Linked DNA regions of Homo sapiens: region 2 is linked to region 1. Evidence: fine-mapped expression QTL. Tissue or cell type: testis. Region 1 holds a variant in brackets; the other region holds the start of a gene. All regions are shown on one strand. Distances are from middle to middle.

Evidence for each region. PIP is the estimated chance that this variant, and not a neighbour inherited with it, causes the effect.
Region 2: it holds the start of IQSEC1, and the variant in region 1 is fine-mapped to the expression of IQSEC1 in testis (GTEx, PIP above 0.99).

What each region holds. Positions count from the first base shown.
Region 1 is chr3:13,290,102-13,292,782 of GRCh38, reverse strand. No RefSeq gene overlaps it. Among named protein-coding and RNA genes, the nearest start is that of NUP210, 130 kb to the left of the region's middle. The variant C/G (reference allele first, on the strand shown) is at 1,501.
Region 2 is chr3:13,071,832-13,074,512 of GRCh38, reverse strand. IQSEC1 (IQ motif and Sec7 domain ArfGEF 1) reads left to right here and starts at 1,084. Exons shown (of 14, transcript NM_001134382.3): 1 at 1,084-1,521. The coding sequence starts at 1,499. RefSeq lists silencers at 709-888, 1,009-1,168.

The DNA of each region.
Region 1 (2,681 bases):
GTCTCACTATATTACCCAGGCTGGTCCTGAACTCCTGGGCTCAAGTGATATTCCTACCTCAGCCTCCCAAAGTGCTGGGATTACAGCGGTGAGCCACTGTGCCCAGCCAAAGCTGCTCATCTCCCCACTACGTTTCTCAATAGCAGTCCTGCTTTGCTGAGCTCTCACAATGGAAAATAAATCATCCAAAACTGAAACAACAGGGTCATTGAACAACCAACCTCCAGTCAGCACTCCAGCAGGCTTTGTGTATAACACACATGGAGCTTACACTGGCAAGTGTCTCCTTGGATGGGAGGACTTTACCAAAGGAGATTTCACATTAAAATGGCCAAAAATGGGATTTTCCAGTGTGTCCCTGGAAACTCCCGCAAAATATATCTCTCATCCTGTGCAGATATTAAATGATTTAAATTGTTTGGTAAATTGTATGGGAGGCATTGTCAAATGATAAATGATACTAGATCTTTTTTCAGTTACATTTATGGGTATGTTATTGATATAAATGTTCCAAAAATAATATAAATTCATAAAAATCTAATGTTATCAGTAATAATTTTGATTGTTATATTAAATTGTTTGTAAGTTATATGTGTGTGGATATGTTGTTAATATAAGTGTTCCAAAGATTATATAAAATTTATAAACATCTAATGGCCCTGATGTGACACCATCAGTCATAATTCTGGTTGTTATCATAAAATGCTGTGTGAAATAGAAATAACTAAATTTCCCTGTCAATTAAAAACTTTCATCAGATTTTAACCAAGGCTATTCTAAGTTTTATTATCCACAGTTATTGTTATAAATTATTCTGTAAAAACATTTGCAGGGTGAGTGCAGTGTCTCACGCCTATAATCCCAACACTTTGGGAGGCTGAGGTGGGAGGATTGCTTGAGTTCAGGAATTCAAGACCAGCCTGGACAACATAGTGAGACCTGGTGTCTAAAAAAAATTAAAAAATTATCCAGGTGTGATGATGTGAGCCTGTAGTCTTAGCTACTCAGGGGGCTCAGGTGGGAGGATCGCTTGAGCCCTGGAGGTTGAGCCTGCAGTGAGCCGTGATGATGATGCCACTGTACTCCAGCCTGGGTGGCAGAGTGAGATCCTGTCTCAAAAACAAAAACAAAAACACTTGCAATCAGCTCTAGTCCAAAATTGTTTTTCATAAAAAGACTATACTAAATATGGGTACCAAAAGGGGAAAAATATTACAATCGATTAAAAAAAAACTATTCAAATGTATGTTCCAGTTTTGTTAAATGGTTATCGTGGGTTTTACAATCTGTAACTCACTTTAATGCTATTAAATATGTATTGCTACCTATAATCTGTAATATCCTTGTAATAGTCCTCCTGCTGAGGTATTGTGTTAGGTACAGGAAAAGGCAATGTCACAAAGAACAACAACAACAAAAAAACCCCAGATCATGCTAGTTAAAAGTAGATGCAATCTGAAGTGTGTTTTTTGCAAAATAGCCAAGTATGCATGCTGAGCC[C/G]GATACAACTACCACTGAAGCTTCCCTGCCTTCCTACGCAAGAGTCTTCCTGGCTACATAAGACAATCAGTGTTTGTCTTGTAAATGCAACTAATAGTTGATTATGAGCAAAAGAGGGAACTTGTGAGACAAAGTAACAAACCTAAGAAGCCATGTTTGCTCATTTTGGCTTGTCAGCATAAAGTGTAGCTCTCCAGAAAGATGTTTTGAAGGCAAAGCAGGCTAGATCACAAGGCTCCCACATCTCTGACCGGAGTCACTATTTTTTAGAAGTGAAATAACCCCAGTCCTTGCCTTTTCCCACACATTAAGATAATGTCTGCTGGGTTTAGTGCTTCTGCTAAGCACATGCACTTCCACACCCAAACCTAGGTGTGACTCTGCTGTAATGTAACTTCTGAACAAGTTTAATGTGGATTTGCACACATTAATCCTCCACCACCTGTATATAAGCCATGGGCTGAAATGCTGTGCAGGAACGGCCTGATAGAGCCTCTCTAAAGGGCTGCTCCTGGCTACAGGCCTCAGTCTATAGTCCTCAGTCAAGCTTCTACATAAAACTGACTTTCGGCCGGGCGCGGTGGCTCACGCCTGTAATCCTAGCACTTTGGGAGGCCTAGGCCGGCTGATCACCGGAGGTCAGGAGTTCCAGACCAGCCTGACCAACATGGAGAAACTCCGTCTCTGCTAAAAATGCAAAATTAGCCAGGTGTGGTGGCGTATGCCTGTAGTCCCAGCTACTCAGGAGGCTGAGGCAGGAGAATCGCTTGAACCCGGGAGGCAGAGGTTGCATTGAGCCGAGATCACGACATTGCACTCCAGCCTGGGCAAGAAGAGTGAGACTTCGTCTCAAAAAAAAAAAATTGACTTTGATTTTCTAAAAGCTTGATCTTTTCTTCAGTCAATATAGGGTAAGGGTTCCATGGCCCAGTGCCCTCCAGGGGTTGGTAAACATGACCACATAAGCACCCAACTTGATCAATAGCAGAGGGCATCTGATGGTGGCCAGGTGGGACAGCCACAGCAGGGAGGTGGGTTCCTGCTGCCGCCTCCAAGGAGCTAAGCAGGCTGGGTATCCTGAGGGTGCACCCCTTCCCCCCTCCCTCCATCTTCCTGGCTTCAAGCCAGGCTAGGGGGTGGGGGACAGCTGCAGGAGGTGACAGTGTCACCTACGGAGCCCC
Region 2 (2,681 bases), 220 kb after region 1:
TACATGCCTCTGAGATAGGTCTGGGATTCCTGGTTTACAGATGAGGAAGCAGAGAGGATCAGATGAACATCAGACAGGAAGAGAGAAATCTGTGTGGGAAAGGCGGGTGTGGGAGCCGAGGATGGATGTGCGCTTCTCCCCTCCACCTCCCTGTCGCACACTGCACCACGCTGGCCTCCTCTGGGCCAGTCAAATACACCAGGCTGCCTTCCGCCTCAGAGCCTTGACGCCAGCTCCTCCCCTGCTTCTTGCGTCATCCGAGTCTCAGCCACACGTGCCTCACAGAGGGCCTTCCCGACCACCCCGTCTGATGGCAGAAGCCTCCTTCCCGCCTCTCTTGGGGTCCCTGCCTCCCCTCTTCCTGCTCTCTTTTCATCCTGATCCTTATCACCACGTGCAATCCTATATCTGCACACTTACTTCCTGGCTTCCCCTTAGACTGTAAACATCATGAGGGCAGATACTTGCCCGGCACATGGAAGGTCCTCGGGAGAGGAAGAGGCACCATAGCTAGACCAGAAATTCTCCCTAGCCACGTGCAGCCCCCTTTGGGACAGGACTGGCACAAACGAGGACTGCTCTGCCATCCACCGTGCAGCTACTGGCGTGGTGCGCCCTCCTGGAACCCCGTGGTATAGCTGTTATGATCCCTTTCACAGTAGCATAATCAAGACTCCCAGGAGAGACGCGGCTTGCCAAGGTCTCATCGCCCTTCAGTGGCAGAGACAGCCTTGGAGTCGGCCGGCCTCACTCCAGGGCCAGAGCCCCGAGAGCTCCGCGGCTCGCGTGTCTCAGTGCCGAAGGCAGAAAAGCCGCCTTGGAAAGTAGTGTCATCGTAGGCTCCGCGCGGCGCGTGCATTTTAGCAACAGACTTCCAGGTTTCCAGCGCGGGCCAGGAAGGGGCCGGCGCCCCGCGCCCCGCCGGGTGTGTGACTTTGCCGCGAGGGCGCAGCCGAGCGGCCGCGCCTGATGCTGCTGTTGCCATGGCGACCAGCGCCTCGGCGATTGGTCCGGCGCGGCCGCACTACGTTGCTCCTTGGGCGCGGGGGGTGGGGGAGGCTCCGGCGCGCCCGCCCCTTCTCCGGATGCTGCGAGAGCAAACCCGGGGCAGCCTTCTCTCGACCCTCCCCTCCTCATCCCCGCGCCCCGCACCCCGGATGGACGGGAGGGAAAAACCCCAAGGTGGGCCCAGGTAGCAGCGAGGTGGACGCCCCCGCCCAGCCTGGCGACCACGGTTACTCGACGTCCTCGCTCGCTCCTGGGCACGGTGTGAGCGCGCGCTACGTGCCAGGGCCCTCCACAGCCCGCTGCTGGCGCCGCCCCCCGCTCCCGCCCCAGCCTCCCTGGAGGAGCCCGCCACCCCCGGGAATGTGACTCGCCCCGCGATTTAATTTTATTCCCCTCCACTTCTTGCCTGAGCCGCCTGCTCCTCTTGGAAACACGTTGAGCCTCCCCGCTGGAGAGGGAGCCAGAACAGGGAAGAACGGATTCACACAGGATGGCTTGCAGAAGACGCTATTTGTGAGTATATGTGGCAGGTTTCTGCCTGAAGCCAGAGGCCAGAGGGGCCCGGCTGAGCTGGGAGCTGGAGTGAGGGGCATCGTTGGGGGAGGGGCAGGTGGATGTGCAGGTGACTTGCAGAGGGAGCTGGCCACCCAGCAGGGATGCCGGCGCTCGGCCCCTGCAGCGGAGGTGTTTGTTGGTGATGACGATGAGAAAAAGGCTATTAGTCAGCAGGTCTTCAGCAGGCTGTGAAATTCCCAACTGTGAGAGCAGGTATCCCCCCTCCCAGATCCACATTCAGGGTGCCCAGACCGGCTCCTACTGTTTTGGCTTTGGTTTAGCCCATAGCCTGTTTAGGAAGAGAATCTCTGCCCAGCACGCCCATGGCCAGCCCTTCAGCCATGCCTGATAGAAGGTCGCAGGCAGGCTGAGGCAGTGGCCAGGATGCTGCGTCCTCCAAGGGCAGGTGAAGGTCCAGCCCACCGTCCCTAGCACGGAGGCATCAGTGTCCAGCTGTGTGCCCAGGTGTTCTGTGGGCTGGCAGCAGAGCGGCTGTGTGCTGGGCCTCACGCCAGCAGCAGAGGCTGTGAAAGTCTGCACGGGGCGGTGACATCACGGGCCCGGGTATTTATGGAAACCAAAGCCTGCGCTTCGGTTAGCCAGGCTTCCCAGGGGGCAGTGGGGTTCGAATGCCAGCTTCCCTCACAGCTCTCTGGGCGCTGCACTGTGCTGTTCTAGGAGGAGCAACCTTTGCCCTCCTCTGGGACCCTCGGCTGCGGGGGTTGAGGCCCAGCGTCAGGTCTCCACCTGCCTAAACTATTTGCCCAGGACCCACTCATTTGGGGCTGTGCAGTGACCTCAGACCTTAGGAGGTTAGAGAGCATGGCTGAGTCCTCTTGAGCTGGGCTCAGTCGCAAGGCTAGGAAAAGGAGGCCTGGAGCAGTATGTGGGGAGCCTTCTGGGGGCTACCCCAAGGCCTCCCTAATCGATGGAGGCCCCTTACCATGGCAGGGGCCTGTGGAACCCCTGATAGAGTGGCAGCTCCCCGTCACCTCCACTGAGGGAAAGTAAACACACCTCTGCCTCTGCTGCGTCAGCAGTGCCAGGCGGCAACCCACGGGGGATGGCGGTGGCCTCTGGTTCGGGGGATGGCGGTGGCCTCTGGTTTGGGGGATGGC